Linked DNA regions of Homo sapiens: region 1 is linked to region 2. Evidence: fine-mapped QTL for protein levels in blood plasma. A gene starts in region 2. The other region holds a variant in brackets. All regions are shown on one strand. Distances are from middle to middle. Region 1 overlaps ST3GAL1 (ST3 beta-galactoside alpha-2,3-sialyltransferase 1). Region 2 holds the start of ST3GAL1 (ST3 beta-galactoside alpha-2,3-sialyltransferase 1).

Evidence for each region. PIP is the posterior inclusion probability: the model's chance that the variant is causal. Protein levels are from antibody-based Olink assays in UK Biobank. Linkage for the fine-mapping came from a reference panel and not from the study's own genotypes, which makes the PIPs less certain.
Region 1: its variant is fine-mapped to the plasma level of the ST3GAL1 protein (UK Biobank, PIP above 0.99).

The regions. Positions count from the first base shown.
Region 1 is chr8:133,454,056-133,462,353 of GRCh38, reverse strand. It overlaps ST3GAL1 (ST3 beta-galactoside alpha-2,3-sialyltransferase 1), which reads left to right. Exons shown (of 10, transcript NM_173344.3): 9 at 360-479; 10 at 2,417-7,506. The coding sequence ends at 2,590. Among named protein-coding and RNA genes, the nearest start is that of ST3GAL1-DT, 110 kb to the left of the region's middle. The variant A/G (reference allele first, on the strand shown) is at 3,966.
Region 2 is chr8:133,568,852-133,577,141 of GRCh38, reverse strand. It overlaps ST3GAL1 (ST3 beta-galactoside alpha-2,3-sialyltransferase 1), which reads left to right and starts at 5,255. Exons shown (of 10, transcript NM_173344.3): 1 at 5,255-5,449. It overlaps ST3GAL1-DT (ST3GAL1 divergent transcript), which reads right to left and starts at 6,570. Exons shown (of 2, transcript NR_186509.1): 1 at 6,272-6,570; 2 at 3,286-6,084. RefSeq lists silencers at 4,506-4,565, 4,756-5,245 and enhancers at 7,036-7,255, 6,615-7,468, 7,426-7,495.

The DNA of each region.
Region 1 (8,298 bases), 110 kb after region 2:
GTCCAGTCCCACCTCACACTGTTCCCTGGAGCCCCCTTCTCCTGAGCAGCCTCCCATCTCACTCCCTGGCCTCCTTGGATTTTTCTGTGTGTCAGCTCAGTGATCCTCCTCACACGGTCCTGTAGGGCCCTCCTCTGCATCATTGCTCTCCATAGCACTTATTAGCTCAGCACCTCTGTCTCTTAGTGATGTGGATGAGTGTCCATCTTTCCTACGAGCATGGAAGCCCACAAGTGCAGGCGTATCTATTAGGCTCATGGCTGTGCCTCCATGGCCACAACAGTATGTACATCTGACAGGCGCTCCATGTCCTTTGCCCCCCAGAACTCACTAAGGGCCGTGTCTTCCCATCCCCGCAGATCCTGATCTACCACCCAGCCTTCATCAAGTATGTCTTTGACAACTGGCTGCAAGGGCACGGGCGATACCCATCTACCGGCATCCTCTCGGTCATCTTCTCAATGCATGTCTGCGATGAGGTATGCCACCCTCCCCCTGCCCACAGGGCTGCCTCGAAGCTCACCGTCCTGTGTTCCCAAGAGAGGCCAGGGAGGGGGAGGGCAGGTAGACCTAGCCTGCCTCTTCCGGAAGCTCGGATTCCCTGTCTCTACGACAGGACTTGCAACATGTGTCTCCCAGGGTGTTTTAGTGAGTAACAGTGCTCTATGAGAAAGTTCTCAGGAGCAATAGTTCTGGCACATTCTGTGTAAGTGCCCAGGACCGTGGTGGTGGAAGCTCGGATCTCGCAGCAGATTCCGGATACAGAAGCGGATTCTCATAGCGAGAGTTGTCTAAGGCCACAGTTCTCAATCCCACTTGCTCCTTAGAATCATCTGTGGGTCTAAGTTCCAGCACCCAAGCCACACCTTGGCCCAATTTTACCAGAATTAATGGGAGCCAGGTACCCAGGGGTTCCACTGTCTACCGAGGTTGAGAACCCGTGATCTCGAGAAGCATGCATTTGCCTTCCCATGTCCTTCGCTGTCCGCTAGGCTGTGTTCGGGTTTCCACTTATGCTCTGAGAGGTTTGCTGCCACCCCAGGAAGAGGGGCAGGAGGGCAGGCCACACAGCCCCCACTTCCTCCCTGATGTTGGGTTCAGGCAGGGCCCTCACGTGTCCCTTCTTGTCTCATTCAGCCCAGCCCCAGCCCCACCCTGCCTGGTGCCTGGTGGGAATCTCAGAAAGGGTCAGAGGCATTGCAAGGCAGGTCCCCAGGCTCAGCCCCACCCTGGTGTTCCCAGGTAGAAACATGGGTGCCCCTGTCATTTCCCCACCCCACCCACCTCCAGCCAGCTGGTCCCAGACCCTTGCTTGAGGTTCTGCTCAAGAGCCCTTTCTCCCATCGTCCCACCGATTTGGCCCTAACGTTCTTGCCCTGGAGCAGGCCCATGTCCATGTTGCATTTCCTGAGAAAGCCACATGTGGCATGGTGCTGTCCCCGTCCCCTCTTTGTCCCCACCCCTCCAATCTATCTTCCACGCTGCAGCCCAGATAGCACGTCCTCTCCCTGGAAGCCCCTCCATGCAATTCCTTCTGGTCATCTTGTACTCATTTTCCAAGACCCAACTCACATGCCACCTCCTCTGAAGAGCTTCCTCTGACCTCTCAGGGCATAGCTCCTCCCTCCTCTGTGCTGCGGGAGCCCTGAATTTAGCCCCATTTCCAACAAGGACCACTCAGTCAGTGACTCCAAGAAGCTATAAGCTCCAAGGCTGCTTCCCCCTGCAGCTGCCCAGCTGGCATCTGATCAAGCTCTGCCTGAACTTCAGTACAGCCAGCAGGGTGCTGGGCTCAGAATAAATGCACAGGGTTTGTCATGTATGTGAAAGGCCTGGTCTAGTGGCCCTGAGGGCGCCTGGACCAGATGAATGTTGGCCACAGAGAAGAAAGGGATCAGCCCTGCCCTCTGCCTCACTGCAATCATGATTCTTGGACCCATTTTCCAGATGAGGAAAGTGAGGCTCAAAGAAGTGACTTCACATGCCCAGGGCACCACGGAGTGGCAGAGCTGGGATTTGGGGCAGTTTGCTTGGCCCCAAAGCCCTGCTCTCCTTCCACTCTCTTCCATTCCACGCCCTCCTTCCTATTCCTTCCCTCTGTAGCTCCTCAATCCTGGGAGAATAGGTTGCACTTGCTGCAGAGGTAAGACCCGGGCCCCTGAGACCACCCAGATGCAGTAATCTCTCAGGGTGCTTCTGGAATTAGACTTGAGTTTTACTTAACTTGCATTTGCTTCACCAAGACTCTGAGAGTTCCAGGAACGTAGAGAAGGGTTTTTAATGAAGGGTTAGTCAGAGTCCTTGGAAATGCTGTTTATGGTCCTGTGGGATTCCAGGAACGCCTACAGGCTTCCTTTCTCAGAGGTGCCACCAGCAGCCCTGCTGTCTGGTTCTCATCTTTGCTTTGCTCCCACAGGTGGACTTGTACGGCTTCGGGGCAGACAGCAAAGGGAACTGGCACCACTACTGGGAGAACAACCCATCCGCGGGGGCTTTTCGCAAGACGGGGGTGCACGATGCAGACTTTGAGTCTAACGTGACGGCCACCTTGGCCTCCATCAATAAAATCCGGATCTTCAAGGGGAGATGACGCAGTGAAGGGCTGAGGATGGACGCACTGTCACACCTCTGCATTTCCAGCCCCAGCATCTTGCTGGAGCCGTTCCATCCCGGAGCTTGGAGGGGCAGCCTCAGGTGTGTGCCTGGGCACCGCTCACAGCCTCTTGCACCCAGCCGTTGGCAGCATCTACTCAGCAAGGTCACTAAGCTCTGCCAGCGTGGCAGAGCATGTCTTGGAACCTGTCTTGAGTGGGGACAACGTCCCCCCACTGCTGCCCTAGAGCTGGGGAGACGCTGGGAAAGGTTCAACCTCCACACACTAAAATCATTTTGGCTCCTGGGGCAAGCTTGGGGAATGAATGTGGAAGATGCCTATATTCTGAGAGACAGGACAGTTTCCCAGGAAGATGGGCAGAGACTTGAGTGGCGATTACCTCCAGCACAGAGACGTGCCAGGCGGTGTTGGCGCTCGGGGCGAGATGCTGCCCTTCTTTGCACGAAGCCTGGCCTCTTGCTTGGCGTGATAACCCTGTCATCTTCCCAAAGCTCATTTATGAGCCACCAGAGGCTCCTACCCCAAAGATTTTCACAGAAACTTGAGGCCAGGTGCCGTGGCTCACACCTGTAATCTGAACACTTTGGGAGGCCGAGGCGGGAGGATCACTTGAGCCCAGGAGTTCAAGACCAGCCTGGGCAACATAGTGAGACTCCTGTCTCTACAAAAATAAAAGATTTAAAAAAATTAGCCAGGCACGGTGGCACACACTTGTAGCCCCAGCTACTAGGGAGGCTGAGGAGGGAGGATCTCTTGTGCCTAGGAGTTCGAGGCTGCAGTGGGCTGTGATCACACCACTGCACTCCAGCCTGGGCAACAGAGTGAGACCCTGTCTCTGAAAAAAAAAAAAAAAGAAAAGAAAAAAAACCCCAAACTTGGCACCGTGTTTCTGACTCCTGCAGATGCCTCTTCCCAAGCAGTTGTTCCTTTGAGTAGTCAGTCTCATGGTTCTAATCGTGGCGAGAGCGGATCTGACCACTTCCATGTGCCTTTGTATTTGGGAAAGAAAAGCATGCATTGGCTGAAATGAAACAAAAGCCCTTACTTGGGAAAAGGGACCCCCACCAGCGGCCCTGCTTGCTCCGTAGCTGGGAACATCTTTTCTGGTTTCCTGAGCCAGCACCTGAATTGCAACGAAGCTCTGAGGATACTCAACACCACCCAGCAGTGCGTCAGAATGGAACGTACATTCTCATTCTCAGACTGTTCAATATGGTGCCCGTAACCTCCAAAGCCACACAGGAGGCTGCCAGCAGCATTTTCCCCAAGGGCCTGAGCTCAGGGTCAAGTCCCTGCTGGCCATCTTGGGGCTGTCACTGGGGGTCTGGGTCAAGGACATCCCAGGAATGGT[A/G]ACTGCCACATACCTCATCTTCTTACTCCCCAGCTACTCTCTTTTCCTCATTAGCCTTCCTGATTATTTATTGATTTCTTTTTTTTATTCAACTGACATTGTTTGCACCCTGGCTCTGTTGGTGGTCCTGGTGTTTTAATGAAGCTTGCCTCACCCAGTAGCTGGGAAATTAGGTGGGGGTGCTTAAGGGAGGTTTGTAGGAGTCCTCGGACGTGGGATATTGGGGGTATCTAGGGCTTGGATGGTTTGTGGAATGTCCTCAGCATCCTCCCGTCCCAACCCAACCTTCCTTCTTCCTCATTGTGGACTTGGATTTATTCTCAGGCTAGGAGTCTCCAAAACTCCGTGAAACCTTATTGCTGCTGGGTGTGGAGTGGAGAGTGACAGGAATGTGGGGGACGGTGATTGTTGGCTCCAGTTACTAATGTTTAAGCAGAAAAACCACTTTCTTGTTGAAAATATCCCTGAAAAGGTCGCTGCTGCTTTGAGGAGGCGTGACTTTTTCCTGGTGGAGTGTGACGGAGGCATGGGGCCTGTGCTCCCAGGCTCGGGGGAGCCCCCTCTGCACACGGGGAGGGAGGAACTTGGGGACATCAGTCATGGGTCACAGGTGGCTTCAGGCCATTCACAAGAGTCCCCGGAAGTTGCGTGCCAAGTTTGGTTTTTTCCCTGAATCTCTGCATATGAGCATTTTTCTGGAGAAAGGACCATAGCTTTTATTAGATTCTCAAAGGTTCAGAATGGGGAATGTGTTAAACAAACCGAAAACCTGTTTCAGCTTTAAAATCCTCCAAAACTTTAAAGACTTTTCTTTTTTCTGAGAAAGGCTGGTAAATCACTGAGTCATCATTCAGAACATACAGCCTCGAAGGGCAGAGCTCACACCCATATATGACGTTAAGAGCTCAACAAATGTTTGTTGAGTGACTGAGTGACCCCAGGGGCAGACTCCAGATCATCAGACACTGATACAGAGAGCGATGCTATCTCCTCAACTCTCCCTCTTCTCCTAAAAGCTGAGTCTATATAGGGATGACAGGCTCAGGCTGAGCAGTCGACTTCTCTGGGTTTTGCTGTGTAAGAATAGGTCCCTCAACATGAAGATGTGTCTGCGTCTGAGCCAGATGCTGCCTGGGTCGGTTGCCTGGCCTCCGTCTGGTCTCCCTCCCTCCTACTAGGGTGGTCAAGCTGTGAGATCTCTTCCAGCCTCCAAATCCAGCTTTCCCATTTTACTGATGAGAAAATCAAGGCCACATTGCAGCTGGGTGGGGAGTGGAGCGTGACAGGCACGGGAGAGGACAGCGATTGTTGACTCTAGTTCCTGATGTTTAATCAGAAAAACCACTTTTCCTGTAGAGCACATTTCCTAAAAGGCTGCTGCTGTGTAGGGAGGTGTGGCCTTTTCCTGGTGCAGTGTGAAGGAGGGAAGTGACGGGCAGTCGTGAACTGTCTGGGACAGATAGCACAAGTCAGAGTTTGAGCAAAACTAGGGTGTTACCGGCGCTATGTTGAAATTGTCTGGAGGCGGGCTTTCCCAGCGAGTCTCCATTCAGCATCTGGAAAAAGTGTAACCAGAATGGAGGTGTCTGACTCTCCTGTGCTCTCTCAGCGCCGAGCTCTAGCTGCAGGCTGCCTGGGTGGCCTTCTCACACCCTCCCGTGCAGGAGACTGCATTTCTCTTTCCCACAGCCCAGCAGATAGCTCATTGGCTTAGCAATGGGCACTTAACAGAATCCAGTTGTTGCAGCCAGAATTAAATGCACCAGTCTGGCTTAAACCAACTGGAACTCATCCCTGGGGTGAAGGTGGCTGGGAATTAGACAAGAGTGTGTGTTAGCCAAAAGGCACATGCATGCTGTCAGCAGGAGAATGAGGAGCACTGGTTCTGGGCAGGCAGTGGCAGGGGCTCCCTCAGGCCCCTGATTCCCAGCCCACAGCTCTTTCTACTCTGCAGACAGAGTTCCTTGGAGACTGGCCCTGCATTCAGGCAGGGAGCAGAGGGGTCCCTGCCTGCAGCACCCAGAGCTGAACCTGAAGCTACAAAGATGGGCTGATGAGGTGGCCCATGAGGTGTCAGCAACATCCCAACCCCCTGGGTCTCCCCAGTGAGTCAGGGCACTGATTTGCTATAGCTGGAGCTACATGCACCTCTCCTCCCCTCAGCCACCTTTTAGGGGAGAAAGGAGGGCAGATTTGTAACCTCTGGTTCTCTGCAGGGATCCTGGGCTGGAAGAAAGTTCATAAATGGATGAATGCCTTTTAAAACTCCAGCTTTTCCAAGCATCATTCACCAAAGCATTTGGTTAGGCTTAGAGAGAAAAGCTGGATATGAGAAAATAGAATGTAAAATAGGAGGGAAAAAAAAAAAGAAGGTGGAGAGGGCAGTTAAGATCTGGGTGATTCTTTAGGGAAACGGCTGGTTGAGAGGCTTTGATGGAATCCCATTCTCTGCTGTGGCCAGAAGGTGGTGCTAGAGGCCAGTCCCACTTGGATGTGACCCTGGCCTCTGCCAGGATTCAAACCACAAAGAACATTTGGAACTGGGATGTTTGCTTTGAAGCAGCCCGAAAACAAGTGAAAGGAAACCAAGATAACTCTCTCTCCCTCCGCTGGCAAGGATCAAAAATACCTTGTGCAGGGAAGCCCGAGCCTCGAGGGGCCACTGCCCAGCTAAAGATGACTGGACACCAGCCATGCACCATCAGGAACCAGCACCTGTCCTCACCCCTGAGAAGAGCCCCGGGGGTATCATTATATCCATCGCAGACATCTGGTTTGCAGCAAATGTGGCTACACGCCATCAGGATTATCCTGCCCTGTGGACTGGGCTAGCTAGTTTTGAGATAGAGTCAACCTCCCCATTTTTGTTTGTCATGAAAACACCAGCTCCTGCACCCCTGGGGTGCTACCTGACACCTGTGCAAAGAAAAGGAGGAAAACTTAGAAGAAAAGGCAGAGACAGGCAAGACAGCATCTCACAGCTTGTCAGGATCAGGGCATTACCGACTATTTTTTCTTACCAAAAGAGCACTGAATTTCCTAGGGGAAGGTGAGCCACCTTTACACCTCCTGTCCTCCCTCCCAGCCCGTCAAGCGATCCCATCACCCAGCCTCATCACTCAGCTTCTTCCTAGTACAAAACTGCCATCGGTTGTACGTCCTGAGCTGTGGGACGTCAGCTTTAACCCTAGCCTGTCTCAGGGCCTCGCCCTCCAGCCCCCCGCCCCTTAGGGTGATCGTGGGTTTCTTCCCTTCCTCCTGCACAATCGCTTCCCTTCACTGAATTCCCTTCAAAGCCAAAGTTTCTTGAGCACTTTTTCTTGTGTGCAGTCTTGTGTGTTTGGGTGTTGGTGTTTTTAAATTTGCTTTCTATTCCCCCCTGCCTCTCTCCATGTCGTTACGCAGCTGAGCACTGGTTGGGATGCATTCGAATGACTTCAGCAAGATCCTGCTTTCCTCAGCCCCCGCTCTGTTTTATTTATTGTTTAATATTTCCAATGATCCAAATCAAAGTGAATAAACAAAGAGCTATTTTATTGTTTGGGTGTGTTTGTTGCTTTTCTACAAGGGTCATGCATTTGCGCCTCCTTCAACACTCCAACTCAGAGGGCCTCCTGGGTTGGCGTCGCCACTACCGAATGGCCAGAATTCAGGATACAGAGGAGAGCCCCAGCGTAGGCCTTGGAGAGGCCTCTTCTCAAGCCCAGGAGTCCCATTACCTGCCGTGTGACTGGCGAGTCACCTAAGTTCTCTGAACCTCAGCTGCGTGTCTCATGTATTAAATGGGCGCGACAACACTGGCCTTCAGAGGGGATGTGGGAGTAAAAACAAAAGCATCTCCAGAGGCCCAGTAGACATGCACCACCTGCTTGAACGTTTGCTGAGTGAATTCACCTTGGCCAGGGCCTGATTGGGCTGGGCTAGTGTCTGTCCTCCCCCGACAGAGACGGGCACACCCAGGGATGGACAAGAGTTTGGTCCAAAGTTGGCACTAATCTCCCTTTAAAAAAAAAAAAAAACAGATTCAGAAACCCAATGTTGCGAGCCTGTAAGATAAAATTGGTATACACAGTAACCAGGCCTCCCAGTTTGTATGGCACACAATACCTCCATGGGCGTGATCTTTAACTCAGAACAGCCCTGCGGGCTGCTGCATGGCTGAGGGCGGAGGTGGGTTCACAGCCAGGCGCCTCTCTCCAGTCCCGGGCCTCCTGTCTGCCCTGCCGCCTCCCTGTCACTCTGTGCTTAGCAAAGACGTTGAGTTATTTGAGACACTGTCTATGGGGACCTTCTGAGGGCAGCCCCCAGAGGAAGGATGGGGCAGAGATTCACA
Region 2 (8,290 bases):
TCACAAACTTTCTGTTTTGGCTGGGATCATCGTGGGGCTGGGTGGAATACATGTGTGTGTCAGTCTAGTCTTCAATCCGGGTCATAAGAAATTTCTCTGTATCTGGTATAGACCCTTCTTAAATTGTTGATAGTCTCATTGCCTCCAATGATGCAGATAGTTTCAACTTCTGTCACTTTGTTCTTCTTCCCCAAGATTGTAGCTATGATCGAATGCGACCTACCTGCCTGGGGAGCAATAACCATCACCAATTTTCCACCTCCGTGGTCTTTAATCACTTTTAATTTCATTTCCAGCTCAATCACTGATATGGTTTGGTTGTGTCCCCACCCAAATCTCATCTTGACTTGTAGTTCCCATAATCCCCATGTGTCGTGGGAAGGACCAGGTGGAGATAATTGAATCATGGGGGCAGTTTCCTCCATCCTATTCTCATGATAGTGAGTTCTCACAAGATCTGATGGTTTTATAAGGGGCTTCTCCCTTCACTGGGCACTCATTCTTCTCTCTCCTGCTGCCTTGTTTTTTTTTTTTTGTTTTTTTTTTTTGTTTTTTTTTTTTGTTTTTTGTTTTTTTGAGATGGAGTCTCACTCTGTCACCCAGGTTGGAGTGCAGTGGCGCGATCTCGGCTCACTGCAAGCTCCGCCTCCCGGGTTCACACCATTCTCCTGCCTCAGCCTCCCGAATAGCTGGGACTACAGGCGCCTGCCACTGCGCCCAGCTAATTTTTTGTATTTTTTAGTAGAGACGGGGTTTCACCGTGTTAGCCCGGATGGTCTCGATCTCCTGACCTCCTGATCCACCCGCCTCGGCCTCCCAAAGTGCTGGGATTATAGGTGTGAGCCACCGCGCCCGGCCCTGCTGCCTTGTTAAGAAGGATGTGTTTACTTCCCCTTTGGTGGTGACTGTATGTTTCCTGAGGCCTCCCAAGCCATGCTGAACTGTGAGTCCATTAAACCTCTTTCCTTTGTAAACTACCCAGTCTCAGGCATGTCTTTCTTAGCAGTGTGATCATGGACTAATACAATCACTCAATGTGGCTTCTCTTTGGCAACATTAGCCATGGATTCTGTACGCTTAGGGACCGTGAGGAACAAAACAGCATGAGATTAAATCAAGCACAAGAGAAAATGATGCAATCGAAAAAAATGAGATGAATGAGGCTACTGCCGGTATGACACAGAATACTGTTTTACAGTAAACTCTTGGTTTTATAAGCAGAAGAAGCACACTCTAAAATGATTTAAAGTATAGTACAGTAAATATATAAGCCTGTTACATAGCTGTTTATTATCATTATCAAGTATTATATACTGTACATATTGTATGTGCCATACTGGTAGTGCAGTAAGTTTGTTTATACCAGCATCGCCACAAACACATGAGTAATGCACGGAGTTGATGTTATGCCAGCTACACCACTAGGTGACAGGAATTTATCAGTGTCATCAGAGGGGACCACTCTCATATACGCATTCCTTTTTTGACCAAAACGTCATTACTCAGTGAACGACTGTACATGTGAGAAGTGTGGCTGGGTTCTGCCAAATAGTTTACTAACTCAAATGCCTGCCAAGATTCTCAGAGTCAGGACCATGTCTCCTACACTCCCTCTAATGCATCATCTCCTGGAGGACTGTCCTTCTGCACAGTCATTCATGGGATGAGCTCAGGCTGCCTGGGCAGTCCATCCAGTATTGGATTGGTGATTCATGACTCTGTAGATGAGGCCTGTCAGTCAGATTCCTCTCCTGGAAAAACTAAAACACCTGGTGGAACCACAGTGGGAAGTGAAGCTGAAAAGATTATTTCCACAATTGCCAGGATGCAGAAAGGCTGAGGCCATAAACATGCAGAAAACTTTAGAACAGACCCCAGGATTTAACAGAGAAAGCCTGTGGGCAGAGAGAGAACAGAGCGGAGAGGGGGAGGGGGGGCAGCGGTGGGGGTCGGGAGGGAGACAGAAACACAGAGATGGGCTCTCTCTCCTTGCAGCTTGTTTTCAGCTTCAGTCTGCACATCTCTACATTAAAACTCTTTTTTCTAAAGAAACTTGAGTGAGTTCCTCACAGTCCCAAGAGCCCTAAGGAAAACACTGTCTAAAACACAAAACACCATGTGCTGTGCCCAGCACCTCTGAACTCATCTCTGACAAGTGGTGCAGCCCTTTTCTTTTCTGCACAATCACCCAAATGGGACCAGAACCCATTAGGATCTTTCCACTCTGCTGTGCCAAGAAACGGGGGTAGGGAAAGGATGAAATCAATTTCCTTAACCATCATTACTGAGAGCTTTGCTGGTGCTCCAAAAGGTAGGAGGTGGCAGCATGCAGTAAATCAATGTCAGCGCTCCCTGGAGACCCACTGTGAAGACACTCCCAGTAATGACTATGATCCTTGTTCTCTGGCAGGATGTGATGGGACATACACTCAGGGTGACAAAGAGGAATGCATGCACACACTTCTGACACACAGCCCCTGGCAAGGGTCCTAAAAGGGGGTGTTAAGAGAGCTACTTGCATGGAATGTCAAAACTCTGGAAAAAAAGGGAGAGGGAGAGGCTGTCCCTGTTACCTGGGAAGAAACTTAACAGAAAGAAAGTGGGGCTTTCAGAAAAGGCCTTGCCCAGGTTAACCCTTCAGAGATGAACTAAAGATGCATCTGATGTACAATGTTTTATTCAAATAAGGTGGTGATTTATGTGTGTTTCACCACAATGTCAATTAATAAGGAATTTCCATCTCACTATGGAGTCATCCAGGGGAACTTCCAAGACATGGTCCTGAAGCCTCCCTCCAACCCTGAGAATCTTGGTGGGATTTGCGTTAGCAGAACTGTTTGGCAGAACCCATACAATCTACACTATTCACATATATAGTCATGCATTGGATAACATTTTGGTCAATGATGGACCACATGCATGTAAGACAGTGGTCTCACAATATATTAATGTAGCTGAAAAACTCCTGTGCCTAGTGATCAGAACATCAACTCAATGCATTACTCACATGTTTGTGGTGATGCTGGTATAAACAAAACTACTGCACTGCCAGTATTGCACGTGGAATACATACAGTAAGAACTCAGCTAAAACTGAGCTGCTTTTGGTTCTTGGCTGCAAAGTGCAACAGCTGGATGACCTGGGGCTCCTTACTTGCCAAATCTGATCCTCTTTCCACAGAATCTACTAGGATATAGTAGCATAGTCTTATATGAGTATAGCATTTTCTATTTTTCGAATATGTTCCCATACATTATTTGATCCATACAATAAACAACACTTTTGTTATTTCATCCAAAAACTCTTTATTGGCCCAGACGATATTCCCAGCCAAAGCTAAAAGTCTGGTGCATGTTAGAAGCTCTTCTTTGCTGGAAGACGCTGCTGGTGGAGGGGACAGTAGCCGATGTAAGCAGAACTCTCTGCCCCCCTCCTCCCATGCACACAAGCAATCTGGAGATGCAGTGAACACCTTGACCTGAGTTTCAGAAAGAGGAAAGCCCACAGGATGTGTCCAGGCAGACAAAAGGGCTCACCCCTTCTCTAGAATTCTATCAAAAACCAAGGGCGTCAGGCAAGAGGTCTCAGAGCAGGTCCCGAAGTACCTAAAAGGCTATTCATCTTTTCCTTCCCTTTCTAGTAGTTATTTTTCTCATTCTCTCTCCTCCCCCTTTTAAAAGCTGGTTTTTCTTCTACTTTTCTCATCTCTGAATATTTCTCCTTTTCTCTCCCAAGTCCCTGAAGTCTTCCCCAACACCCTAGCCCCCATCTTCTAGCACAGGTCATCTTCCTGCTGTGGGCAGGGACCTGACACTGGAGAAACCCACCATCTACACAGCTGACTTACTACATGTCAAAGACAGTTCTAAAGGTTCTATGTGTACGAATTCACTAACTCATCACAACAGCTTTATCAGACAGACACTTCTTAGGTCGGTTCTCACAGATGAGGACACCGAGGCACAGAGTCACCTAGGCTGGGAGGTTCAGTCACTAGCCCAAGCTCACACATCCGTTGAGTGGCAGTGCAGGATTTGAACCAAGAAGTCCGGCCATGCGGGCCCTGGCCTGAATCCCTGTACTACAGCAGCCGTCTGATGAAACAAAGGCTGGGGGACTCTCCCCTTCCACTGCAAAAGGTTGATCTCTCTCCAGCTGGAGCAAGGGGCGCTGGAAGGATGCAATGACCCCAAAGGCAAACTGTGCCTCTTTCCTCTAACATTCCTCCGAAAAGTTGCGAAAGAGGTAGTCTCAGTAAGGGGTTAAGAACCGTAAAACCAGATTTACATGACTTGTGTACTGCATTTAGCATCAAAGCGCTGCACTCTGCCTTTCAGCAAAAGAAGTCTCCACCGCCCCCGCTTCCCTGTAAAAGAGGGAGGGCTGAATAACTGCAAGCCTAATCCGCAAACCCCAAGCTCCAGCCGCAGCCTCCGCATCTGGAAGGAAAAAGCGGCGGCAGGCGAGCCAGGGCAAGGGCTGGGCCAGGGCCGGGGCCGGGACCAGGGCCGGCCGCAGTGCCCGGCTCTGTGGCTCTGAACGCGGTTCTGGCCGCAAGAGTCGTCCAGCCCACGCTCCTCCCTTCCCCCTCCCTAAATCCCACCTCGAGTCCCGCGCCCTTAGAGGAAGTGGGTGGCTCTGCCCGGTCGCCAGCAGGGGATCGGCCCCTTCTCCCCACCGTGCCCCCGACTCGAGTTCTTCTGGGCACTGCCATCCTCTCGGTGCGTGCCCGTCTTCCTGCTGAAACGGACCCCAGTGGCTCCCGGGCCTCCCGGGCGCTCTTCCTTAGCCCCGCCAGCTTGAGGGCCGCGTCCAGAGAGCGGGGAGCTCCTCTCGGGGCGCCGATCAGGTCCCCGCGCCGCAGCCGCCGCCTCCGGCGTCTCCCAGGCTCGGCCTCTGCCGAGCCCGCTGCGGTCCACGTGGCTTGGCAGAGCTAAATTCGGCTTGCAGGAAGCCCGGAGCCAAGGGAAAGCCGAGCCAAGTTGGGGTGGGCGGGGCCGAACGGAGGCGCAGAGTCGGGAGGGGCGGGCACTGGGCGGAGGAAGGGGAGGGCCGCGCGCAGGGGAGGCGGTGGCTGGGCTCTGGCGCGCCCTGGCACCCGGCCCCGGCCGGCCAGGGAAGGCGGCCCCTCCTCGGTCGCCCCGCCTTTCACTCCCGTTACACCCGGGGGAAGGTGTTCCCGAGCCCTCTCCCACCCTCATCCCGCCTCCTCGCTTCCTCGGCTCCAGCCTCCGCCGGCGGAGCCCACTATGCCAGACAGTTTCGACACTTTGCAAAGACAAAGAGCCCTAGACCGGAGGGAGGAGGAGGAGGAAGAAGAGCGGAGAGAGAAGGAAGAGGCGATGTGAGCTGGGAAGGGGGCAAGTGTCCGGGACACCCACACCCCTGTATTCTCCTCCGAACCCCTTCATGCCCAAATCCCGGAAACTCCAGCGTGTCTCCAGCCGTGGTGAGTGCGCGCGCGGAGGCGAACCCTGCTCGGGGTGCGCGGGGGCTGCGTCCGCCTGAGTTGGGGCTCGGGCAGTTTCCTGTGGATTCTCGGAGTGGAAGGTTGATTGTCTGGACCCGGGAACTGAAGGGGTGGGGAGGGGACTAGGAGGGTGTGACAGTGGAGCTGGGACTGAAGACCCCGGGATTCTAGTGGAAGACATTCGAAGGGAGACCCCTTCCTTGGCAGCGGCGACCACCCAGGGCTTTGGGAGAGGAAGAAGGTCGGGGTGGAGGTTCGGGCTTAGGGGTCTTCGGCCGACACTGGAGGAGCTGCCTGGAGCTCTGTGGGGAACCTACGCCAAGTCCCGGGCAGCGGTTCCCGAAAGCAGCCCCAGTGACATTGCACCCGGCGCCGGGCTGGGATCTCCTCCGCTGGGGCCGCCCGTGGGAGGAGACCTCGCTGGGTGGCCGGGCTCAGGCGCTCTCGAGCGGATTTGGGGTCACAGGCTGGGACACCGCGGAGGCCGCCAGTGTTCTGGACGAGCGGCCGTGGGACAGTATCCGGATCGAGTCCCCCAATCCGCTGCAAGCAGGCGCAGATCCGGGAGGTGGCTATCGGCCCCGGGGACGCCGTCAGAGCGCGCTGCTCCGGATCTGGGGGTGAAGTTGACACCCGGGACAAGAGAGCTGAACGCGGCGTGGCGGACAGTGGGGGACGCGGGTGGGCCAAGGAGAGCACGGCCGGAGTCGTGTTAGTGGCAACTCGAAACTCTGAATCCGCCCCAACCCCGTGAGGCGTCGCAGCTCCCAAGAAATAATCTGACAAAAGTTAGCAACTTGCCTGTGTCTCTCGTGTGTGTGACCTGCGTGGGGGCAGGGCCACCCCTTCTGGGAGCGCACGGGGACGGACAGCGGTGACCCTGGGGCGAGGCGCTCTGGTGAGGGTACAGTTAGTTTGGAATCGGGACGGTGGCGCAACTTTCCGCTCCTCCTTTCTCTGCGCGAGTGTTTAAGCGTGACCTTGCGGGAGGAAGCGCGGCTGAACTTGAGATGGGGGTTGAGCTTGCGCCCCGGCTTGGCACAGAGACGTCGGAGCGCGCATTAGCCTGGCCTTGCAGCCGGGTCTCCCAGGAAGCGTGTGGGGATCGTCTGGCTCTGCTCGTCAGCTGGAGCCCTGACTCGCTCCTCCCTCCTACGCTAGGGTCCTCGGCGGCCGTACCATGCGCGGGGCTCGGTGGTGTGTTGGGCGAGGGGACACGTGCGCACCCAGAAGCGCGCAAGGGGGTGGGGGTTGGGCAGGTCACTGCGTCTCGCGGGCTGGGCGAGTCCCGCAGAGGGAGTCAGCCGTGACCCTGAGGGCAGTGACTGGCTCGCCGCGTCCCTGCATCAGGCATTCGCCCGGCTTTCTCGTGATTGTTTCCGGGCACCCCTGGCCTCTCCCGACTTCTCCCCCTCGCGGGTCCCCAAGCCCCGCAAGTTTGCGACGAGCTGGTTCTCCAGGGAGACAGCGAGCGCCCACCCCCGCTCTGCGGCTGGGTGTGTGTGGTGAGAGGAAGAGACGGGAGGAGGAGGCGAGGCCGACTCGCCAACGAGGAAAACGGGGTGAGAGGGGAGCCGGGTTTTCCAATAGTCGCCAGGGCGCCTGGCACGTCGTAGGTGCTAACGCAGTGTTCATTGACAAGGCCCCAAGGTGGAAGGTGCTGGCAGGGGCCCGGACGCCCCCTTCTTCCCTTCCAGTCTCTAAAATGGAGTTCAAATGTATCGACCAAGCCCTTTAGGCTTCTAGACGTGCCTGGAGCACCTACTACGTGCGGGGGCTCTACTCCTGGCCTGTTCGTAGAAGCTGCGGGCGGAGCCTCCTGATTTTCTTTACCCCGCGCTGCCCAAGCGCCCAGAGGCTTCGAAAAGGCAAGGTGCACTGCCCCCTGCCGGCTGCTGTGGAAACTGCCGCTTGTCTCTGCGGTGGGGAAGGGGCGCCCAGTGCGGGGGTCCCTCAGTGCCTTCCCGCACCTCCCCTTCCTGCCCCAAACATTAGGACCCCTGCCGGCTGTTTTCTGAAATCCCATGGTTGGCTGAAATGACTGACTAGAGTTCACCACTCCGTGCCCCTCAGCCTCTGCCAATATCTGGGTACAGCGTGGGGCCTCTTCTAGTCTCCCGTCTCTCTGTCTCTGTCTCTCTTTGGTCGCCAGACTTAACCTCTCGGCGTCTCAGTTTCTATATCTGCAAAATGAGGCCAATAATACATTCTCCAAAATACGTTCTGCATAATTGCGAGTGGCGATAATACATATAATTAAGTGAATGTGTGTATGTATAGGTAGTTCATACTCTACATGTGTGTATGTGTATACCTTGACTTCAGGTCTAGGGAAAAAAGTTCCATCGTACACTTTTTGCTAAATAAAGAATGAATAGAGGGCTCCTTCTCCTCTTGCCTTTTCAAAATCCCACAAACCCTGAAGTTTGCTTTCCCTGCATTTTTCTGGGCCGGCATTTGCTGTTTAGAGTCTGATTGGACAAGGCCAGGACCTGGGCTTGAGCAGGGCCTTTGTTGCCTACCTCCCTGGCTGGGAGGCCACAGCACCCCACCCAGGGTGAGAGAGAAAAACAGGAAGCGTTGCTAGAAGTGATGGCAGAGGAGGGTTTCTTAGGGAGTGTGGAGTCTGTTCCTCGAAGCTCTGCAGCAGCAGGCGGAAACTGCCTTCTGAGCAGCCTTCTTGCTGATTGTAATCAGGGCTGTACTGCCCCCCTTCCCTGGTGGCGCTCACAGCATTGGCTGTCGCTGATCTGGAAGCCCTTCTTATGGGGATGAAGTCGTCTGTGAGCTTGACAGGAAGGAGTCCTTCTAGGTCCTGGG